Homo sapiens: one gene and its partners. The protein of the gene in region 2 interacts with the protein of the main gene of each other region in a pairwise test. Each region holds a gene or a part of one and is shown on either strand. Other genes may lie near its edges.

Evidence for each region.
Region 1: the proteins of ELOA2 (region 2) and ZNF165 interact in a two-hybrid assay, tested with the Homo sapiens proteins (one large-scale study listed by BioGRID and IntAct).
Region 3: the proteins of ELOA2 (region 2) and COIL interact in a two-hybrid assay, tested with the Homo sapiens proteins (one large-scale study listed by BioGRID and IntAct).
Region 4: the proteins of ELOA2 (region 2) and SOHLH2 interact in a two-hybrid assay, tested with the Homo sapiens proteins (one large-scale study listed by BioGRID).
Region 5: the proteins of ELOA2 (region 2) and ZBTB43 interact in a two-hybrid assay, tested with the Homo sapiens proteins (2 studies listed by BioGRID and IntAct).
Region 6: the proteins of ELOA2 (region 2) and TRIM37 interact in a two-hybrid assay, tested with the Homo sapiens proteins (one large-scale study listed by BioGRID and IntAct).

Annotation. Positions count from the first base shown.
Region 1 is NC_000006.12:28,083,568-28,086,815, reverse strand, and holds part of ZNF165 (zinc finger protein 165), read right to left. Parts: intron 1,336-3,248; coding exon 925-1,335; intron 645-924; coding exon 506-644; exon of another isoform or gene 458-505; coding exon of another isoform or gene 430-457; intron 1-429. UniProt on the Homo sapiens protein: May be involved in transcriptional regulation.
Region 2 is NC_000018.10:47,032,822-47,036,973, forward strand, and holds the start of ELOA2 (elongin-A2), read right to left. Parts: upstream 2,801-4,152; 5' UTR 2,444-2,800; coding exon 182-2,443; 3' UTR 1-181. UniProt on the Homo sapiens protein: SIII, also known as elongin, is a general transcription elongation factor that increases the RNA polymerase II transcription elongation past template-encoded arresting sites.
Region 3 is NC_000017.11:56,951,051-56,954,550, forward strand, and holds part of COIL (coilin), read right to left. Parts: intron 1,394-3,500; exon of another isoform or gene 1,060-1,393; intron 714-1,059; exon of another isoform or gene 598-713; intron 1-597. UniProt on the Homo sapiens protein: Component of nuclear coiled bodies, also known as Cajal bodies or CBs, which are involved in the modification and assembly of nucleoplasmic snRNPs.
Region 4 is NC_000013.11:36,211,757-36,215,997, forward strand, and holds the start of SOHLH2 (spermatogenesis- and oogenesis-specific basic helix-loop-helix-containing protein 2), read right to left. Parts: upstream 2,801-4,241; 5' UTR 2,771-2,800; coding exon 2,723-2,770; intron 1-2,722. UniProt on the Homo sapiens protein: Transcription regulator of both male and female germline differentiation. Suppresses genes involved in spermatogonial stem cells maintenance, and induces genes important for spermatogonial differentiation.
Region 5 is NC_000009.12:126,803,619-126,807,839, forward strand, and holds the start of ZBTB43 (zinc finger and BTB domain-containing protein 43), read left to right. Parts: upstream 1-1,421; 5' UTR 1,422-1,514; exon of another isoform or gene 1,515-1,952; intron 1,953-4,221. UniProt on the Homo sapiens protein: May be involved in transcriptional regulation.
Region 6 is NC_000017.11:59,047,881-59,051,380, forward strand, and holds part of TRIM37 (E3 ubiquitin-protein ligase TRIM37), read right to left. Parts: intron 3,449-3,500; coding exon 3,334-3,448; intron 1,514-3,333; coding exon 1,298-1,513; intron 1-1,297. UniProt on the Homo sapiens protein: E3 ubiquitin-protein ligase required to prevent centriole reduplication. Probably acts by ubiquitinating positive regulators of centriole reduplication.

The DNA of each region.
Region 1 (3,248 bases), on a different chromosome or scaffold from region 2:
TGTGTTTTGGAAATATTCTGGATAAGGAACAAAATTATCTTTTCCCCTACCATTGGCCAAAGACTCACAGGAAAACAAGTTCTCTCTCTCTTTTTTTTTTCCTTTATGAGATGGAGTCTTGCTCTGTCGCCCAGGCTGGAGTGCAGTGGCGCAGTCTCAGCTCACTGCAAGCTCCGCCTCCCAGGTTCACGCCATTCTCCTGCCTCAGCCTTCCGAGTAGCTGGGACTACAGGTGCTACGGCTAATTTTTTGTATTTTTAGTAGAGATGGGGTTTCACCATGTTAGCCAGGATGGTCTTGATCTCCTGACCTCGTGATCCACCTGCCTTGGCCTCCCAAAGTGCTGGGATTACAGGAGTGAGCCACCGCACCTGGCCACAAGTTCTCTCTTTTCATTGGGTAATAAAGGAAAGGACCATCTACAGTTACCAAGACTAGTTTGTGGAGGGAGATTCATTCCCCTGTTTCTTTAGTGATGTGCACTATATGGCATTCTGCCCCTCACCACAGTCCCATAGGAGCTGGGGTTCTGATGAATCAAAATGGGCCTTGGTCTCCACTGGCTGTAACTTGACATTAAGTGCTGGTCCAGGAGGTGACACTTTTTTCTGGAATATTTCTTGTCCATGTTCATGGGCTTGAACCTGAGAAAAATAAAGTACATTTGGGCTTATAAAAGAATCCCTGTGTTAAACGTCTTCTAACAACAAAGAGAAACTCCCATAGAAATGCAAAACTGGGGAAGGAAGAATCGAGTCTGATTTAATTGTAAAATGTAGTGTGGAATCAAACAGACAGGAAAGGAGACATAAATGCACACTGAACCAACAGCTCCTGCAAGCTAGATATGCAATCTCGGGCCTCTCCTCCCACCGTGGAACTTTATCCATTATGGAGGTCTTAGATCTCCCATCCCCTGTGCACCTGGAGTACTGCTTCATCAGTGCCTCTCTCCAAATCTTCTAGTATGGTCACTGCCTCCTCTCCACTCTCTGGGTAATGTTCATGTACCCAGGCCTGCAAATCTCCTGGCAGGATGGTCAGGAACTGCTCTAGCACCAGCAGTTCCAGAATCTGTTCCTTGGTATGGATCTCTGGCTTCAGCCACTGACAGCAGAGCTCCCGGAGGCGGCTCAGTGCCTCGCGAGGTCCAGGAGAATCCTGGTAGCAGAACTGCCTAAAAAGCTGCCTGCAGAGCTCCTGCTTAAGGAGTTCACTTCTCTGTAAGCAAGTGTCCTGCCCATGGATAAATTCTTCCTCTTCTATCTTCACTATCAGAAGTCCTTCATCCTCTGGAGAGTTCTGGGCTGCAGCTTTCTTTGGTTCTGTAGCCATCTGTGGATAGAATATATTATCAGAACTGCTTTGGAAAGGGTCTTCTTTAGTTTCAAGAGTCCTCCTGAGGGATCAAAAGTTACTATTACTGTCTAAGAAGATGAAAGACCACATAATAAAAATCGTCATTCTCCATTACACAAAAATTTACTGGGCATTTACTATATGCAAAAGCACTGACATACTTGGTTTCTAGAATACAACTGTTAATGATTTCTACTTCAAGATAGCTTAATTTTTAAATTTAAAAATAAGATAAATTAGAAACAATAAACTTAAATGTAATGCTAAATATTAACAATGTACATGTTATTAAATTTTAAAAGTCACAGAGAAAATAAGGATAAAAAAGAAAAATGATAGAAGTGCTTCATAAAATAGGAGATGAGAAAAATACAGATGGTTGCAATGGTCAAGGGAAGCTTAATGCAAACATGAAATTCTGAAGAATAGAAAAGATTTGACTAGGATGTGGGAGGGAAAGAAATAGGAAATTACGAACAGAGAAACAGTCTGAACAATTGGGTAAGAGTAGGAATACAGAAGAGGGAAAGCAAAACGTTTAGTAGGTTTGTATAAGAAAATTATAGAGGCAAAGCTTGGAGATGTTATTGTAGAAAACATCAACTGTGAAGTTCATGAATTTGGAGTTTATCTTTTAGGCACTGGGGAGTCACTGAAGAGGAGTCAATTCTTCTGAGCAGAATGACCTGCTAAACACTGTGGAGATGAATATGTTCTTCATTTCTAGGGTGGGTGGCAATATGAAAAGATAGAGGCCACTGTATTCATGCAAGTATGAGGTTCTTTTTTTTGTTTTTTGAGAGGGAGTCTTACTCTATCACCCAGGCTGGAGTGCAATGGCGCGATCTCGGCTCACTGCAACCTCCGCCTCCCAGGTTCAAGTGATTCTCCTTCCTCAGCCTCCTGAGTAGCTAGGATTTCAGATGCACACCGCCACACCTGGCTAATTTTTTGTATTTTTAGTAGAGATGTGGTTTCACCATGTTGGCCAAGCTGGTCTCAAACTCCTGACCTTGTGATCTGCCCACTGCCCATCTCAGCCTCCCAAATTGCTGGGATTACAGGTGTGAGCCACCGTGCCCGGCCTGAGGTTCTTTTACTAAACATTTCACTAAGTTGACTACTGACTGATGCAATAACACACATTTTATTAAGAATCTTATCACAAGCAAAGCATTGGGCTAGAAGTTGTACAGCAATGGTTTACAAGAAAGTCTGAATATGACACTGGGCTTGCTGCCTAATCATCATATGGGATCTTTGGTAGAAACAGGTTCTTGGGCCCTACCTCTGGAGATGCAGACTAGGGGCCTGCTCCTAGAGATGGTAACTTGGTCAGTATAGTATATGCCTGGAAAATCTGTATTCTAATATACAGCTTAATGGATTAAACAAAAAGTCTTTGAGTTTGAAGAATAGAAAAGATTTGACAAGGATGCGGGAGAGAAAGAAATAAATTCAGTGGGAAGAACTAGTTGGGAAGAAATTATAAAACATGGATACAAAAGATTTAAATGAGAAAACGTTTCACATGACATATACATTGTACATGTTTGTTAAATGTTGAATGTTGAAGTATAAAATGAGTTTATGGTGGAGATACTGAATGTTCTAACGGTCCTGAGGTGGGAAGAGACTGTGAATGGTAGAAGGTATTTCCTAGAGGTGGTGGGTATTAGAAATAAATTTTCGGTGCAGCAAAAGAAATAGCACTCGAACATGAATTTTCTCATCAAGGCAATTTTGCTTCTATAGAAAGGTGTGTCTCGCAGATGGAGCAATGGTGAGAGCATACCTGATCAAGGGAGAGGAAGGGGTTCTTATCTCTGACGCAGGTAGTCCCTACTGCTATGTCGTTCCCCTATTGGCTAGGGTTGGACTGCATAGTC
Region 2 (4,152 bases):
AGTGGCTGGGTGTGGGAGGCAAAATCACAGGGCCAGCACATGACACCTGCAGAATTCAAAGGCTCAACTTTGCACCAAGTTAAAGGTTCTGGTGTCCATTGGAAGTTTCGTTCCCCAACCCGCATTGACTTTGCCAATGCAAAAATCCCCCCAGATTTTATCTGCAAGGCAAGTCCTGAGTTTATCGTCGGGAGAATCTTCTCTTGTAGTCTCGAATTGCCTTGGCCATCAGCGGGGCCACTTTCTTGGCAGCCTGTTTCCGGGTTTTGGCCGCGGGCGCCGCGTGCTCATTGCTGCTGCTCAGGCAGGGGTTGGCCCGCTTCTCAGGGAGCCAGCGAAGGATGCTGCTGCTGCTGTCTCTGCCACCGCCGCTGCTGCTCTGGCTGGAGGGAGTGTGGCTGCTTCCCGCGGGCTTGGAGGCTGGCTTGATCTCCCCATTTTCGGGGTCAGCGTCTCCTGCAGACTTCTCTTGCCTCCTTGAAGTATCATAAGGCGTCTTGGCCACAGATTTGAAACAGATCATCTTTGCCTCTCTGCCGTTGGGGTTGTTTCCACGTGCAGATCGGATATTCGTTGTCATTACTCTCAGCCGCTGCTCTGGGGCGTCCGGAAGCCGCAGGTACTGCTCCCTCCAAGTTTTGTTTTCCTGTGGCTTTTCTTCCTTGAAGTCCTGGAAACAATGATTCCTCCGTAATTCGTCTGTCTCTCTAACGAGTGCGTGATTGTCTTTCTTTCTGCGATACAGCTGATCGGGCCTCCACCCTTCCAGAACAGGTTCAAGAACCCAGTAGGGGACCTCTCCCACGTCGCTGAGGGCGTCCGGATTGTTTCTAAGCACCTGGGCACACTGCTGGCGCAGCGTCGGCACCTGGAGCTGGCAGGCAGGCCTGGAGCCCGAGTACACCGGCATCTTAGCATTCACTCTGCGTCCAGGGAAAGCAGCTTCCTCCCGGAACTTTGGTGAAGAGAGTGCTTCTGGCTTTGCCTGGGAGGTCATGGAGTCAGAATCCGAAAGCGGATCGTAGTTGGCCTGCATCCAGGCCTCTGAGAGGTCCCAGAGCTCTGAGAAGACATGGCTGGGCACCGTTTTCGGCCCGGCGGAATCAGCGCCGGCCGCCTGCAGCCTCTCTGACTGGCTTTCCTGGACAGGAGGCAATTTCTTAGCCGAATCCCAGGACTCACGAGTGCCCTTGGATTCGTTTGCTTTCCTTTGTTTATCTCCAAGTGCAGTGGTGGCAGATTTTCCAGTCTTTTTCTTTTGCTTCCGCAACTGATCGTAGGTGAGGTATTTTTCACATGACAGAGTGGGCTGCTCGAATTCCTCAGCCATATCTACCTCCTCCACCTCAGAGAGGGAGCTCACGGACGTTCTGTCCAAATGAGCAGTCGGTGGCTTCCCCTCTTGAGTCTCTCGGTCGTTGGAAAGCTGCTCTTTCTCCTCGGGCGACAGGCCGTGTGTCCCATTTCCTGGGTCCCGGCCGTCTAGACTGGGCCTCTTCTTGTTCGAGTGACTGTGCTGAGGCCTCTTCTGGTGACTGTCTGGAGCCTCCTCCAAGGCAGGGACACGCTGGCCGCTGCCAGCTTGCCCCCCTTCCTTGTCTGTCTTGAAGTCCGAAGGCTGCCTGTCCCTGGCACTTGCCCAGGAGGGCATCCTTGGGGTTTCCTCTCTTAAGCAGGCCCCGCATGATTTCTCCCTGATCAAAGTAGGGGAGTGCCAATCTCCCTGGGCACACAAGGGGCGTTTTTCCTGGCGAGACGATTTGTGCCCCTTGCTGTGGCTCACAACGGCTTTCCCCTGGGGTTGGCCCTGGCAGCCTGGACACAGCAGAGGCCCGCCCTGAGCCGCGTGAGTGTGGCCTCTTCCGGGTTGCTTCCCGGGCGCAGCGGGCTCAGGGCCCTCGGGCATCCGGAGGGGAGCTGTGCGCGTTGGAGAGGCCCGATAGCGGCCGGAATCAGCTGGGGCTATTCTGGGGCACTTTCTCTCAGCTCTGGGCTCGCGACTGTGAGACCTCGGGTGAGGTCTCTGTTGCCCCGGAGGTGTTCTGCGTGCTGTCCGTCTGTGCTCAGGGCTGTGAGATGGGCTCCTGGGGGCCGTCGCGTTTTCTGGGAAGCCCCAGGCCTTTTCCTGGTCCTGAAGAGCCTCCCCGAAGCGCTGTCGGGAAGCGCTCTCCTCAGGGTCCTGTGGGCCAGGCCGGGTGTTTCGGTCCACGAGCACCAGCTTCTTCCACCGGGCCGCTAAGTCTCTGGCAAAGTCGCCCACGTGCTGGTGCTTCCGCAGGCGCTTCACCGTCTTTCTGATTCCAGTCTCCGCCAGGATGTCTGCCGTCATGGGCAAGGCGGAGAGTTTCTGCAAATATTTCTCTAGCTTTTTCGGCTCCGTCTTAGTGGCCAGACGCACCTGCAGCTTCTCCACTGCGTGCAGCGTAGTGGACCCTGCCGCCATCTCACCAGAGCTGTGCAGGCGTCGCTGTCCCGGCGGTCGCAGCTCTGTCTTTGGGGCTGCGGGACAGGAAGTCTGGGGTGGCCGGTCCTCGCTGCCCGGTCGCCAGGCAGCGACCTCGGGATGTGGAGTCACAGCCTGGAGCGAGCTGGGTCCTCGGAGCAGCAGGCCACTTGGTCTGGAACGGCCGTCCTTGCAGACAGCTGAGCAGGCCCGCTTTTGTTCCTCGGGATGTGGAGCCACAGCCTGGAGTGACCTCTGCAGTTTGCTGTGCAACAAAGAATGAAGCTCTGGTGCCAGAGCTGGGCCTTATGTAGCCCATCCCAGGCTGACACTCACGGCTCTAGCCCTGACCCTCTTAGCTCTTGGGCTGCCCCGCCCCCATACGTACTCATGCCGTCAGCACAATGCAGACAATCGGGACGGTCCACGCCAGGTGGACTGCTGTGCCCCAGAGGTTGATTAGGTTAATTTCAGCCTCGACACACCCCACTGAGTTTTACCGTTGACCTTCCATGTTCGCAGGTTCCACATCTGTGAATTCCAAAAAACACAGACTGAATCTTCTTGGGAGTAAAACAGAAAATAACACAGCAAGACAAAATCATAGAAAGAAGAACCAATACAGGATAACAACTCTTTGCCTAGGACTGATGTTGTGTGAGGGGACTTCCCAAATTTGTCAAAACAGGGATTAAAAGACAAAAATAAAACCGGTAGATTTTATTTCTTAACATCTGCTCCATCAATTTCGAGACAGTAGTTCGAGCACTGTCTTGACCCCGCCTTGTCCCTCAAGCCCTGATGTTTCTGGGAATTTAACTATTTCCAAGAAATCTTTTTTCCATTATTAACTGAAGAAAACTGGGTGCCGTTTGCAGAATTTTTAATACGAGGAAATAAATAGAAGTCAGCAGGTTCCACATCATGACTGCAAGGTGGACGCCTCATGATCTCCTTTTGAAACTCTTGCCAAACTGCCCTTTGTTCAGTGAAATGCTACAGCAAGAACTTTTTCATGATTAGGTAGAACTCTCTGGTAATGGTTTTTCTGCTCATGCTTTGGCTAGTTTTCTCAAAAACTCTGTTAGTAAGCATATTTGATCTTGGTTTGGCCCTTCAAAAAGTCTTTTAGTCATATCTTTTGAGCATTCCCCAAAACTGTTGCCATGACCTCTTCTCTTGACTGGTCCTCTCTGTCTTTGACTGGAGTGCTGCCACCTTTTGGTAGCCTTTGTTTTGTGCTCTTTCTTCAGGACTATCCAGTGTAGCCATGTTTTATCCCCGCTTACAAATCTTGGAATAAATATTTCTGGATCTTCTTCCACCTGTTTTAAAACTTTAAAGAAATTTTTACTCTTGTCTCTAGCTATTATTGTTGAAACAGATTTGGTATCTGGATCGGACTTTAATTTTCAGTGACAATTATTAAAACAGGATCATTTGAAATATCTATGGTTTTTTCTCTTATTTCTGTTGTTACTTATTTACCCTCTCAAATTAGGGAACACTTGGTCCTATGTTTCTGAGCATAGTTGACCAATTCTGACATTGTATTAAATTCAATAAATGTCTTTTCTGGATCTGTAGACACTTCTTTTGATATTTCTAGCATTTTTTTGGGTTGTACAGCATTTGAAAGTTAGGAAGTTTCCTGGCAGAGCCAGGAGATAGTCAGGAAACAAACAAGAAACAAATTAGAACCTACAGGT
Region 3 (3,500 bases), on a different chromosome or scaffold from region 2:
AGGACATAGTTATATACTGAGATGACTCTACAAAATGTAACTACCATCAGTCAATGAAAAAATGTCACATCACTTAAAGACAAAAGACTCTTTCTGGCAAAATGGCCTATGTAGCATTACTCACAGTCAACTTTCAAATGGCTAGTTTTATTTATTGAATAGCTACTGCATCCTAAACATTTTTAATACGTTTTTCTCTAATCTAAACACCAACACAAAGTAGGTATTTTTAATTTTACAGATCGCAAAATTACAGCTCAGACAAGTTACTTGCCCCAAATCTAGAGCTGATAAGTAGCAGAAACGCAATTCAAACTTCAGTTTGTCTAACTTCAAACTCACAATCTTTCTACAATATGCATGTCACCTACCCTAAAAGGTGATAATGCTGATTATCCATTTTGTTTCAGAATGTGGGCTTCTTTCTTTAATAAGATTTTACTCCTGTTTTAATTTAGGTGAATACTAAACAATTTATGTTCTCTAGGGTAGTGACAGCCATCTGTACAATTCCACAACACTCTGTGAAGCTTAATTTTATGTATCAATTTGTCCGGGCTATTGGACGTCCAGATATCTGGTTAAAATTACGCTGGCTCTTTCCATACCACCACAGTGGTGCACATGAATGTCTTGGCTGATGCTCTCAAGAGCATCAACAAAGCTGAAAAGCAAGGTAAATGCCAGGTTCTTATTAGGCCGAGCTCCAAAGTAACTGTCCGTTTTCTTTTTTTTATTTTTATTTTTCTTTTCTTTTTTTTTTTTTGAGACGGAGTCCCAACTCCGTCACCCAGGCCAAAGTGCACTGGTGCATTTCTCAGTTCACTACAACCTCTCCCTCCCAGGTTCAAGAGATTCTCGTGCCTCAGCCTCCCAAATAGCTGGAATTACAGGCGCCTGCCACTATGCCTCGCTAATTTTTGTATTTTTAGTAGAGATGGGGTTTTGCCATGTTGGCCAGGCTGATCTTGAACTCCTGGCCTCAAGTGCTCAAGTGATCTGCCTACCTTGGCCTCTCAAAGTGCTGAGATTACAGGCATGAGCCATCGCACCCAGCCCCATCGTCCAGTTTCTAACTATAATGATGAAGCATGGTTACACTGGCAAATCTGAAACCACTGATGATCATAGAGCTGGGAAAACTGTTGTGAACCTCACAGGCAGGCTAAACAAGTATGGAATAATCAGCCTCAGATTTGACGTGCAACTCAAAGATCTAGAAAAATGGCAGAATAACCTGCTCCCATCCCACCAGTTTGGTTTCACTGTACTGACAACCTCGGCTGGCATCATAGACCACGAAGAAGCAAGACGAAAACACATAGGAAGAAAAATCCTGGGATTCTTTTTATAACGATGTAATACGTATTTACAAATATATTGCCTCAGTGGAAAAAAAATTATGCTGGGAGTATGTGCAAGGTTGTTTCTGGATGAGATTAACATTTAAATTGCTAGACTGAGTAAAGTACATTGCCGTTTCCAATGTGGGTGGGCCTCATCCAACCCACTGAAGGCCTGAATAGAACAAAAAGACTGAGTAAGGGAGAATTCATTTCTCTGCCTGACTCTTCAAGCTGGGACATCGGTCTTCTCCTGCCTTCAAACTCGAACTTGAACTAGAAATATACCATTGGCTCTCCTTGGTCTATAGCTTACTAAGTGAACTTAGGACTTCTCAATCTCCACAATCCTATGAGCCAATTCCTTACAATAAATCCCATGTCTGTGAGTGAGTATTTGTGTGTGTGTGTGTGTGTGTGTGTCTTACTGGTTATGTTTCTCTGAATAACCCTACTTCATCCAAAATTTCACTATAGGAAAGCAATTTTGTTCCTCCATCAACAGGCAACAGCTAATCCTAGTATGTGCAGTCTGATGATGATGGAAGTCTTGAGACTGTCCTCAATGTTAAGCAAATTGTGAGTACTCAAAAATGCCTGTTGGCCAGGCACAGTGGCTCATGCCTATAATCCCAAAACTCTGGGAGGCTAAGGTGGTAGGGTGGCTTGAGCCCAGGAGTTTAAGACCAGCCTGGGCAACATAGGGAGACCCTGTCTCTACAAAATACAAACATCAGGCTGGGCACGGTGGCTCACGCCTGTAATCCCAGCACTTTGGGAGGTCAAGGTGGGTGGATCACAAGGTCAGGAGATCGAGACCATCCTGGCTAACACAGTGAAACCCCGTCTCTACTAAAAATACAAAAAATTAGCCAGGCGTGGTGGCGGGCGCCTGTAGTCCCAGCTACTCGGGAGGCTGAGGCAGGAGAATGGCGTGAACCTGGGAGGTGGAGCTTGCAGTGAGCCGAGGTCACACCACTGTACTCCAGCCTGGGCAACAGAGCAAGACTCCGTCTCAAAAAAAAAAAAAAAAAAAAATACAAACATTAGGTAAGTATGGTTGGTGCATGCCTGTGGCCCAGCTACCTGAGGTAGGAGGATCACTAGAGCCCAGGAGGTCCAGGCTGCAGTGAGCTGTAATTGCGCCACTGCTGAAAACACACATTATACTTACAAGGCATTTACATTCAGCTATATATTTCATCAAGTTTTTTCAGTGGCCAGGGAAAGATGTAGACAATCATATTTGAAAATAAAGAACAACTGGTGAATGATAGGAGCATATGTGACAAGCATTCTTTAAATTTTTTAAGGCATAGTAATCCTGTGGATTTACCTCAATGCGGTAGTTGAAAAAAATCCTCAATTATTTGTCAGAAAACTAACTATACAGACAAACAAATCAAGATAAAATAAGAGTTACTGATATCAGGAGTAGGAGAAAGAGACAAATAAAATGCTGAGTGACCAGGGATTTTAAATTATAAAAACACATTCCCCTCTGTTCCCAGCTTGGCATCTAATAGCAAGGAAATAATTCTTAATCTGGCAAAAGCCAGTTTGGCATCCTGTGAATCTAAGAACTACCATGGAAGCGCTACAATATCAGATTTTTTTCTTGACATTTCTGATCAATTTGTTTTCACTTGTAGCAATGATCCAAGCTTCAATTCTGAGATGACCAAATAGGACCAAACTTTCTGTCAAATGTTGAAAATGGTTGCAAGTCTCTGTTCAGTCACTGTGGTTTATTAAGGCCCTGGAAAACAGCACATGTAACATCCAGTTGATGAGAACCCCTTCCTTTCCTGGAAGCTGGCAACACCCTCACGCCTTCCAAAACAGCTCTTAGCATCGTCTCATCCATTCTTAAGACCATGCATTGGCCGGGCGCGGTGGCTCATGCCTGTAATAATCTCAGCACTTTGGGAGGCTGAGGTGGGCAGATCACAAGGTCAAGAGATCGAGACCAGCCTGGCCAACATGGTGAAACCCAGTCTCTACTAAAAATACAAAAATTAGCTGGGCATGGTGGCATGCGCCTGTAGTCCCAGCTACTCGGGAAGCTGAGGCAGAAGAATCGCTTGAACCCAGGAGGCAGAGGGTGCAGTAAGCCAAGATCACGCCACCGCACTCCAGCCTGGCGACAGATAGAGA
Region 4 (4,241 bases), on a different chromosome or scaffold from region 2:
CCTGCAGGTGGTAGTTATTGCCATGTTTTTGCAAGTAATACCGAACTGAGCACAAAGAACACAGAAAACGTCAAATCAACCTAGCAGGGGAAGGACCAGGGGAGAGAGGAAAATGTGTCCATGCTGGGCTCTGCACTGTTTGAATCACAGTGCTCAGGAAACAGGGCCTCCTGCAGAGCATAAGCTTTAAAATAATAGAAATCAACTGCCTAGCTTGAGCCTTTCCCTAGCTAGCACATGGCATTCTGACTGCACTATCCTCCCCTTAGAGGCTCAGTTCCAGTGTCCCCAGAATCTCTCGGCCTTTTGGGGGGAAAAAAAGTCAAGAAAGAGTTATGAAGGGCAGAACATGCATAGTGGGAAGTCGGGAGAAATCTGAGGGTAGGTAGGAAGATGATCTGGAAAGGGATGAGGAGAAACAAGCACCACTAACCCACCGTTCTGTGCAGGAGTCTGAAGTTTTTGCATAGCATCTTGCACCATGGCACAGAGCGGGTATGACATAAAGCAGCTCTGGAAAGAACTGATTTGCTCTTTTGCCAAATGCTTCTTTCTCTGCTTTACAAAATCAGTGCCATAGCACACTTGGAATGTTAATGGACAAATCAGAACACTGCTCAAGTCCACTATCCCAGTTCCATAACTCAAATTAACAGAATAGTTTATAATCAACATAAATCTGAATATTTATTTAGTTTAAAATATGTTGTTGACAATGTAATATGAACACAGGCGATAAAAAAGATCTATTGACAAAAAGAAAAAGGAATAAATGTTTCTAGTATATTCTGCTTGGAAAACTGCCTTTTAGTACATCTAAGATTTTCACCTGCAAGCAGTAATCTGAACCAGTGTTAGGCTTCGTTTGATGAAATATCTTTTTCTGTTTGAATTGCTTACTACACCTTTGTAAACGAAAGTAACATGTATTCACTGGGAAACACTAAAAAATTCAAAAAAGAAAATAAAGTGTAATTCCACCACTCAGGGTAAGCCCTATTAACACCTTGGTACATACCCTTTAAGTGTGGGTGGTTTTAATAACACGACATCATTGTCACCAAGACACTTCATCCACTGTTTCATTTCTGTGATCACAGTAACATGCAGGGCACTCTAGTCTCTACAATTTTTAAAACACTGGATTTCCATTTGCAATCTGTGGCAGGCTAAACCCTTAATTAGTAACAGCAGGTGCTGAAGTGCTTAAAGCAAATCACTCCTACATTTTAGTGAGTTGTTATTTATGTCACTCTTATCACCAGGAGCAGAGCAGCCCACAATCAGCAGCAGCTGCAGGGCTGAGGCTCTCATGGGGCAATTGCGGGCCTTCAGTTTCCTCAGGAGTCAAGGGATTTAAACAGCTCTATCTGGAGAAACTGAGCAAGCGGCTTTTCTCACAAAGGCACACAAAGGGGTCAGTTGGGGCTTCACACTCTCTTAAGGGGAGGAAACCACAATTATTTATGTTCTACTAGATAATCAGATATTTCATTCAGAATTCATTTTGTGCAGCTTTGCCTAATCCTGCACCATAAAATACTATTTTTCCTTAGAGTTTAAATAGGTTCCTCTATCTTGAAAAATTAAGAAAACCTGTTAAACGGGTCCACTTCAAAGTGATCCTAATTCCATTTCAGAAAGCTTGCTCTTAAGAAGAGATGAAATTAAGTTTGCAGAGCATTCTAAGAGGTAATAAGACTACACTCAGCACAAAAGATTGCTCTCTCCTATTTATCAAGATGCGGAAAATACTAAGATGAAAGCCCCCCTCCCCAGCTGGCCTTGCTTTCTGGCGTGGGGAGGTTTCGCCTACGCTTTCCTCCTAGTGGGGTAATCATCACCTTTCACTTTTATCGAAAACAGTTACAAAAGTGATTTTGTGCTTTGCTAAAGGGGCTGAAAAATAAGGTGCTTTCAAGAGAGGCCAGCGGGCTTTTTGATTTCCATGGAGGTGGCAAATGCGTGCAGAGCAGGTCCCGTTCCCACCACGGCTTTGGTTCCACACAAAGTTGCCTGTTTGGGGGGAAGCTCCACGAAGGACACTTTGGGATGCCACGCCAGTGCCCAAACTGAAAATAAGCATGCCCAGCTGTGCAGAGACGGGAATGCAGGAAAATAACGCGCCTAAATAAACTTTCTTATATTAAAAATAAAAATCATCGTTCACATTTTTGTCCAGCCACCAGCCCCAGAGTGCCTACTAAATTGTGTTTCTAGGTAGCTAACTTCACAAGTGGCCTTCTGCTCGAAAAATAAGTTGGGGAAACGTCAAGGGCTAAGATTTTTTTTTTTTTTTTTTAGTTGGAGAATTCACATTTATTGAGTAATTGATGTGATGCAATCTGCAATTTTTGGATTCAAGATAATTTTCACTGAACATTTCATCAGTTAATGGGTTTTCTTTATAACACGATTCAGTTCTCTTTCTTCCTTGGCCTCCTCTCCCGAGATAAATCAGCCCCGTCCCCCAACCTCAGGCCCCAAGGGCCTGGTGGCACCCGGGGGCACCCTCAGAAGCCGGGTCGGCGCTTCCCCAGCTCGGGGCGCCGGGGGAGAGTGGACTCGCGTCCTGGAAGGGGCCCTTCCTGCTATTCGCTCCCCACAGTTCCCCGACAATGAGAGCTCCCCAGGCCGGGCTTTGAGGGCCGAGGGGACCACCGACCTAGGGCCCGCCCGCGAGGTTATAAACGCAGCTGCCTCCCCTTCCACAGCCTCTTACCTGGCCCGAGATCTGGCAGTGCTCCTGGCAGATAATTGAGGAAGCCATGGCCGCTGCGCACGTGCTGGGTCCTGGGGCAGCCTCCCAGCAGGAGGAGCTCCACAGCCGCTGCGTCCCGGGCCCGCCCCCTGCACTAATGGCTCCTGGCCGCAGCTGAGGGCGAGCACGCCCCAGGCGCCCTTAAAGTGGCCCTGTCGCCAGTTCTGGCGCGTGGGGGAGCAGCAGGCCGCTCTGAGGGGTCAACGCGGAACCCGGGTCGGGGGCCTGCCCGCGGGGGCTACTCAAGCTGTCCTGGGGGCCCTTAGGAGACCGCGTCACTAGCTGACTGCGCACTCCAAGTCCCCTTCCCAGGGCAGCTCTCACGACACTAAGCCCCGCGTACTCACTCCCACTGCGCCGCCTGGGGAGGCGGGAGGCAAGGCGTCATCTCAAGATGGTCTAAAAATTTTAAGAAGTCTTTTCTTACGGGCAGTCTTTCCAGTTTAAATGTTAGGAATTAGCAAACACTTGGGTTTGTTTTGCTCTTTTCTAAACAAACATAAACAGAGGATAGGAAAGGCGAGTACTTCTATGGTGATTTCTTTCCAAACCACTAAGAAATTTAAAATGTTAGGCCGGGCGCGGTGGCTCACGCCTGTTAATCCTAGCACTTTGGGAGGCCAAGGCGGGTGGATCACTTGAGCTCAGGAGTTCGAGACCAGCCAAGCCAACATGGTGAAAACCCGTCTCTACTAAAAATACAAAAATTAGCCAGGCATGGTGATGGGAGCCTGTAATCCCAGCTATCTGGGAGGCTGAGGCACAAGAATCGCTTGAACCCGGAAGGCGGAGGTTGCAGTGAGCCAAGATCGCCCACTGCACTCCAGCCTGGGCGACGGGGCGTGATTTCGTCTCAAAAAAAAAAATTAAAAATATTAGAAACACTTCATTTTTGTGCCGTGATTTAACAAATACTGTCCCTATTTTCTCAACGGAAACAATGAGGCGATAAAATTTTCTCGTGACTGCTGCTATGTAAACTCCTCTACTCAACCTTCACTGAACATTTTACTGAGACCTATTGGGCGTCAGACCCGCGGAGGATCCTTCCTCGGATGTGTCTTGACTACTGTGCCATGATTTTTCACTGCTGTAAGTGTGGTGGTTATTGTGGATGACTGCAGACTCTGGATCTCACTAGAGCATATAACACAGAGGAGCTCTCCGGGGAACCATCTCTGCAGGCGGTCCCTGGGCAAGTCTCCTGGTTCCTGAGCAGCTGGTGCTGTGTCCTGGGGGTCCGATTTAGATCCCGGGGGCATGCAAAAATACAGCTGTGATACTCTACAGTTCTGATGGGAAGAAAAGGAGCAGATGAACTTCTGATGGGATCATTCTGCATTACTTTTGGAAGTGTACACGTCTTAATAGAGTGTAATAAATTTCACTTCTATTGCTTTTCCAATTAATCAGGAACTGACAGTATCCACATCAATATCTGTGCGGGAAGTGGTTTGCTCACCAATGTAAGACAGAGGTG
Region 5 (4,221 bases), on a different chromosome or scaffold from region 2:
GAGAATCGTTTGAACCTGGGAGGCGGAGGTTGCAGTGAGCCAAGATTGTGCCACTGCATTCCAGCCTGGGCAACAGAGCAAGAATTCGTCTCCAAAAAAAAACAAAACAAAACAAAACAAAACCACAAGGCGGGGGAGCTGGAGCATACATGTTTGAAGTAGAATCTTTGACAAGCTGTTCTGCATCCACTCCCATTTCTGTGCTTCCATATTTGTTTTCTTTCATTTTGTTTTCTAGAAAAAAAAATTTTTTTGGTAGAATTCTCTAGGAAAGCTACACTCCTGTGTCCTAGGGCCCAACAACAAGCAAGACAGGCATAACAGCTGGGAAACCAATCAGCTTAAACTGAGACAGACAATATCAAACAGGCATGTCAGGCCCCACGAGAACATCCACCCTAAATCCAGAAGGCATTATGACCACATCGCTTCAGCTGCCTGGATTTCAGGTATAAATTAGTTCTTCTACAAAGAGGGCACTTGGTCTGTAAACGGGTCCAAAGGTAAGAGTCCCACCGCTAAAGACCTATCTCTCTTCTACACTAACATGGGGGGGCAGTGGGGAAGAAAGGGGCGAGAAGAGGTATGGAGGTTTTGGGAGGGAGTGGGAGAATTGGAGGCTAGAGAGATCGTTTCTGTCCCACCATCTGTGTGACCCCAGTGCCCAGCACAATGCAGCCCACGGAAAGGCACTGGTCCTTTCATTGACCATTTACTGAGCATCTACTACATGCCAAAAAGCGAGATGGGTGCTGTGAAGGCAGAAACGGATTTGGAGATAATCTCCGCCAGGCATACTGAGGTCAAGGTTTTCGTTCGTTTGTTTAGAGAAGAGACGGAGAAGGTCAAGGTGTTTTTGTTTGTTTTGTTGTTGTTGTTGTTGTTGTTTAAGAGTCTTGCTCTGTGCTCAGGCTGGAGTGCAGCGGCGTGATCTCGGCTCACTGCAACCTCTGCCTCACGGGTTCAGGCAATTCTCCTGTCTCAGCTTCCCAAGTAGCTGGGATTACAGGCGCGCGCAACCACGCTCAGCTAATTTTTGTATGTTTTGTAGAGACAGGGTTTCACCATGTTGGCCAGGATGGTCTCGAACTCCTAGCCTCAAGCGATCATCCCCTCTCGGCCTCCCAAAGTGCAGGGATTACAGACGTGGGCTACCGCGCCTGGCCTATGCCAAGGTTTCAAGAAGGTTTAGAACTCAGTATCTGCTCCCCTATTTTCAACAGCGTAGTCAGTCCCTAAAATTGACCCGCTCCAGAGTGTACTGCGCAGGCGCCCGCTACCTCCGCGCTCTCTCCCGACGCCCAGCTCAGACGGTAAGTCCCGCATGCGCACTCCGCTTTCTCTCTGACGCACCCCCGGAAGCACTGTCAGTTTCGGGGGGCGGGACCGGGAAGCGTTTCCGGGGGCTGAAGGCACAGGCTGAATCTGTTGCGGCAGCTGAGGCTACAACAGGCCTGCGCCGGCGGCAGAGAGGATATCTTGGGCGGGGGATGTGAGCGCTGAGCCCTTGGCAGGTACTGCGTGGCCAGGACCACGGGCGGCAAGGGTAGGGGAGGAGAAGTCGGTGGGGGAGTTAAGGGCTCCTCAGCAGGCCCCGACGCTCGCGCCGCTGGCCCCGCCAGGCCCATTCCGTGGACCGGCATACCAAAGCCCCGCGCGGGAGGTTGGGGTCCCGGCGCTCCAGCTCCGAATCCCGCAGTCTTCTGCCCACACGGCGCGCAGACCGCGATACCGAGGCCTTTGGGGCAGCTTCTCGCCCAAGGTCACCCTCGCGGCGGCGGAGCTCCGCCGGCCACAGCGCTTAGAGATCCCGCCCCCGTCCGTCCGCTGGCCTTTCGGGGCGTAGGGTGGGCGCGGCTTGACGACCTCGGGTTCGAGCCACCAATGCCTGAGGCCTGACGAGCCGAGCTGGGAGAAAGACTGCGCCTGGACTTAGCTGATCTTCTGTTTAAGTAAAACATTCAGCATCCCCTGTTGCTGTCTCTGTCACCTGTTGTAACCTGCCCTTTTTGTCTTTCAGCTAGGTCGCTGTCAACCTGATATTTCTCTCCACTTTGTCTTTGTCGGGGTATCTGGATCCTGTTTTATATCTGTCTCCACCTTGCTTCTGTGTCTGTTCACCCTGTCTCTGCCACTCAGCCCTTACTCTAATTCAGGGCCTGTCAGTCTGGCTTTTTGGCCATCTGTCTGTTTCTCTCTTTCTGCCAACTTTGTTTTTGCCTCTTGTCTCTCTTTCCTGAGTTTGGGTGGGGCAGGGCTGCCCAGACCTCTGAGCCATGGAAGGTGACTCATGACCCCGTGAAGTTCCCTGCACTGGTGACACTCTCAGTGACTCGACCGCAGTTTGGCCTCAACTCTGACAGGTGTCGCCCAACATAAGTGTCAGAGTGCAGGAGAGCCTGTCAGGGAGACAGGAGGCCCATTTTAGGGCCAGAGCAGCTTGATGAGTCCTCTCCTTTTCTCGCCTGTGGTTTCTCAGGCCTGCACAGCTTCCCAAATGCCTTCGCTCTATCCACTCACCACAGGATGGTCTCCAGGGATCTCTGGAGCCTGCTCTTTGAGTTACAGCTGTTTAACAGGCCTGTCTACAGGCTAAGAAAGGATCAGACTGAGGTCTTTGGGGCTACTGGAACAGTAGCAGGGTTTCTGGGATAACTGCATGCTTAGTTCAGAGATTGTGTCAGCATTTTCAGTTAAATTATAAGAAACCTAATAATTGGGAATTTATTATTTGCTTTATAAAAGCACCACGGGAGAAATAAACCACACACAAAAGGACAAATGTTGTTTGAGAGCACTTAAATGAAGTACCTAGAATAAACCAATTAAGAGACGGAAAGTAGAATAGTTTACCAGGGGCTGGGGAGAGGAGTTATTGCTTAATGTTACAGAACAGAGTTTTGGGGGATGATGAATAAGGTCTGGAAATGGGTTGTGATGATTGCACAACATTGTGAATGTACTTCACTGAATTGGACTCTTAAAATTACTTAAAATTGTTAAGTCTTAAAGTTTTATGTATATTTTATACAATACAAAAAACAAAAACAGTATTCATTGGAGACTCCTGAAACCAATAAGCTCCTTTTACATGTAATTTTTCAAAATTCATTCTGTAGTTGTTAGGAACACAGTTGAACCTGTGTTTATTGATTCCTACTCTCTTTACAGCAGTGGGTACAGCTGAGGTTCTTAGAAAAGTTTAGTTAAATGAATTTGGTTAAAATCTTTCTCAGGCTTTCTACTTACTTTCTGCCCTGGCTCTCCTCCCTCTGCCTTTCTTGGAATCAGTGCAAGAATGTGCTCATAAGTAGGATACTTGATAATTATGCTTTTCACAGGAAGAAAACTCATAAGGTTGAAAAATAGCCCTTTTATTATAATGCAAAATTATGTGTTATTTCTTGAGTTTCGTTATGGGGGATGCCTTTGTGGTTTTTTTGTTTTTTAAAATCTCTTATTTAAGCTGTCTATTTGCCTTTAAGGTAGTTTATCAAGCTTTCTAATAAGATATCACAACTGAATTACTACTTTATTTAATTGAATCCTAGATGCTGTTATTTCATGTACCACCAAGGAAGGGAGAAACCCTGCTAATTGAACTATGGCTTAATACGCTCTTATCGTTTAGACTTTTTATTATTGAAAACACTTTTAGACTTAGACACTAAAACATGGTATCAATGCCTATTCTAATGCATATATACAAAGGAAAAATAAGAACACATTGGTTAAAGTGTTCGTTAAACTTAACATTCCAAGTTCTACTCTTCTGTGCACTTTTCAATTCAGAGTGTGTCCATATTTTTTCTAGAGTGTCATCCTTTGTGTCATCAAGAACATTGATGAGGACCTCAGCAGTTCTCTATCATTGTCTCAGGCAGTGACAGCTATTAAAACTGCCACCTGGTGATCACATTCTGATTTCAGGAATTTTAAAATGTGAAAAAATGCATGTCTGAAAATTAATTGAAGAGTATCATTTTCATGAACTTTTTTTTTCTTGTTTTTGTTTTTGTTTTGTTTTGTTTTTTTGAGATGGAGTCTCGCCCTGTCGCCCAGGCTAGAGTGCAGTGGTGCAATCCCGGCTCACTGCAACCTCCGCCTCCTGGGTTCAAGCGATTCTCCTGCTTCAACCTCCCGAGTAGCTGGGATTACAGGCGCCTGCCACCACACACAGCTAATTTTTGTATTTTTAGTAGAGACAGAGTTTCACCATGT
Region 6 (3,500 bases), on a different chromosome or scaffold from region 2:
CATCCAGCCCATAAACCAAGCACCAAAGAATAATACAGTTTTCAAAAATCTATTTTCTGCTCCTGTGCCTCAGCTGCTGAGCCCTGTAGAGAAAAATCACACAACCACACTGACTGATATCATTTTACTAACTTATGCGTGCCGCCTTCAGCTGGGCCCTCAGTGTGACTGGAATCCTTCACATATTCCACATCAGCTTCCTCACAGAGTAACGTTTCAAACCATCACTCCTCAATTCTACCTAATTTTACCATTATCAAGGTCATTAATTAACACTGTCACCTATCTGCACAGAAAAAAAATACCCACTATTAAGCAAAAACTTCCCCAACTTTTCAGCTGCCTTACCTGCAAACTCCACCCTTCCTTTAACTCAGTTTATCAAAGGTTAACTGCTTCACCTGACTGCTCCATTCCAAACCCTATTATCTCTAGTTTATCAAAGCACTTAATCTGTGCATTCTCTCGACCCACTGGGTCCTTCATTTTAACTTAAAACTGAAGTCTCTCATCTTAAAAATTACTACAAAAAAACCAACTGTCTATGCATCCCTTCTTATGTAAAAATATCAACTACTTCTTGAACTCTTATTCTGGATTCTGACTGTTGTTTAGCTGGGATAGAACCTGGCTAGCTACCGAATCCTAAATCAGTCTACCTACGTAAGTAATGATAAGGCATGTACTAGTTTCAGTGAATGAAAATAGAACACCTTTTTTTTTTCTTTTTCTTTGAGACAGAGTCTTGCTCTGTCTCCCAGGCTGGAGTGCAGTGGCACAATCTTGGCTCACTGCAACCTCCGCCTCCTAGGTTCAAGTGATTCTCCTACCTCAGCCTCCCAAGTAGCTGGGATTACAGGCAAGCACCACCACACCCAGCTAATTTTTGTATTTTTCGTAGAGACAGGGTTTGGCCATGTTGGCCAGGATAGTCTCGAACTCCTGACCTCATGTGATCCACCCACCTTGGCCTCCCAAAGTGCTGGGATTACAGGTGTGAGCCACCGCACCCGGCCAGAACACATTTTTAAAATCCACAATGTATGGTAGTTTAGGTTTTAAAATGTGTATCACGGTTTGTTTTATACAATGTATTGTTTTTTTCACAACCTTGAAATGCTTTGATTCAACAACTTCTGACTTATTAACATTTACATAAGGGCATACATACATTACTAATGGAAATCAATGGACAATATTTTTAGCCTACTGTTTTAGCACATAATATGTTAAAAGCCATGATGCTACTGTTTTTTTTTAATCAAACACAAAAATCTAAAACTGGCCTCATTATTACATGATAATCTTCATTCTGAATCTTCTCCTCATCTTCTTCATCCTCTTTGGCCTCTCTTACAGAAGCTGTAGTAGGACCACCTTCGAGAAGCATGTCAGAGCATGCAGACTTCTTAGCTCGTGTCTCCAGAGCATCATCATTTTGGGGGCTAAGATGGTTATCTGGTGGTGACAAATCTCTTGACTTCTGAGTTCGAGACAGCTCAATAGTAAGTCTCTTTTAAAACAAGAAAAGCACAAATATTAGCCACAGCTCACTGGCACAGTAAAAGATGTCTCAAGTGAAAAAAAAATGCATCCAGATGTTTCTAAAACCATTGCTTTATTTATTTTTTGAGAATGGTCTCACTCTGTTGCCCAGGCTGAAGTGCAGTGGTGCCATCATAGCTCACTGCAAGCCTTGAACTACTGGGCTCAAACGATCCTACTGCCTCAGCCTCTCAAGTGGCTGGGACTGGAGGTGTGTGCCACCATGCTTGGCTAATTTCATTTTTATTTATTTTTAGAGACGGTATCTTGCTATGTTGCTCAAGCTGGTTTTGAACCCCTGGGCTCAAATGTTCCTCTGGCCTCGGCCTCCCAACATGCTGGGATTACAGGAATGAGCCACCTCACTTGGCACCATTTCTTAAACCATTTCTCTGAATCCCTACTGCCTTTTATTTATAAAAAAAAATTGATGACAAAGATAAACTGCCCCATTTATGCTCATCCTCCTTCTTTCATATCCAGCCTAAGCTAAACATACAATTAGCAAACAGTATAGTGAATACAGGCAGTTTTAAATAGCACATTTAACATGAAAATCTCTGAAAGCATGTATTTATTCACATTTTCCTCCCTGACCTATTAACGACTCTCAGCACTCCAAACCTCCTGCCACACCCTAACTTCCTAAGGGAAATGAAACATTCCTTAGTTTACCACTGTAAAATAAAAATTCATCAATTAATCTTCCCCAGTGCTCATTCAACAATAGTAAGAGTTCAAGATGGGACAACTTTTAATTGTGCTATAGCCTAGAATCCTCTAAATCCAAGATAACTTGTGGAAGAGAAACTAAGTCACTGACAGAAACACAAACAGCTTACCTCAAACTACAGCCACACTGTTCAAAACAACTTTATGCAATGATGGAAATGCTCTAGATTTGCAGTAACCAATGCAAGCACTTGAAATGTGGCTACTGCAACTAAGGAACTAAATTTTTAATTTTAATTAAGCTAAATTTACAGACCAGGCACAGTGGCTCACACCTGTAATCCCAGCACTTTGGGAGGCCAAGGCAGGCAGACTGCTTGAGCCCAGGAGTTCAAGACCAGCTTGGGCAACATGGAGAAACCCATCTCCACAAAAACAAAAACTAGCCATGACACATGCTCGTAGTCCCAGCTACCTGGGAGGCTAAGGTGGGAAGATCACCCGAGCTTGGGAAGTTGAAGCTGCAGTTAGTGGAAATTGTGCCTGGCAACAAGAGTGAGTCCGACCTGTCTCCAAAATAAAAAAAAATAAAAATAAAGTGGCAGGGCGTGGTGGCTCATGCCTGTAATCCCAGCACTTTGGGAGGCCGAGGTGGGCAGATCACGAGGTCAGGACATCGAGACCATCCTGGCTAACACTGTGAAACCCTGTCTCTACTAAAAATACAAAAAAATTAGCCCGGTGTGGTGGCAGGCGCCTGTAGTCCCAGCTACTCAGGAGGCTGAGGCAGGAGAATGGCGTGAACCCAGGAGGCGGAGCTTGCAGTGAGCCGAGATTGCACCACTGCACTCCAGCCTGGGCAACAGAGCGAGACTCCTTCTCAAAAAAAATAAATAAATAAAGTAAAATAAAAATTTACATGGCCGTATGTGGCTAGTGTCTACTAAACTGGACACTGCAGAACTGGTAAGGATGGGGAACAAGATAACTAGATTTTTTTTCTAATTACAAATTACAAAATTACAAATAGCAATAAAATATATAAAATCTAATTACAAATATAACAAGCCAAAAGGACAATAGGAAACACCAAAACAGAAATAGATATTTTCTTACCTCTTTAAGGTTGTTTATTTGTTGGATATAACTAGTCTGTGCAGCTTCCAACTGAGTAATGTACCAATGCTGGTCCCGGGATTTTTGAAAGAAAGTTGGTGAACGTACCTGAAACCTTAAAAGAATTGTGCCACATTAAAAAAAAAATTCAAATAGTAAAACATTAT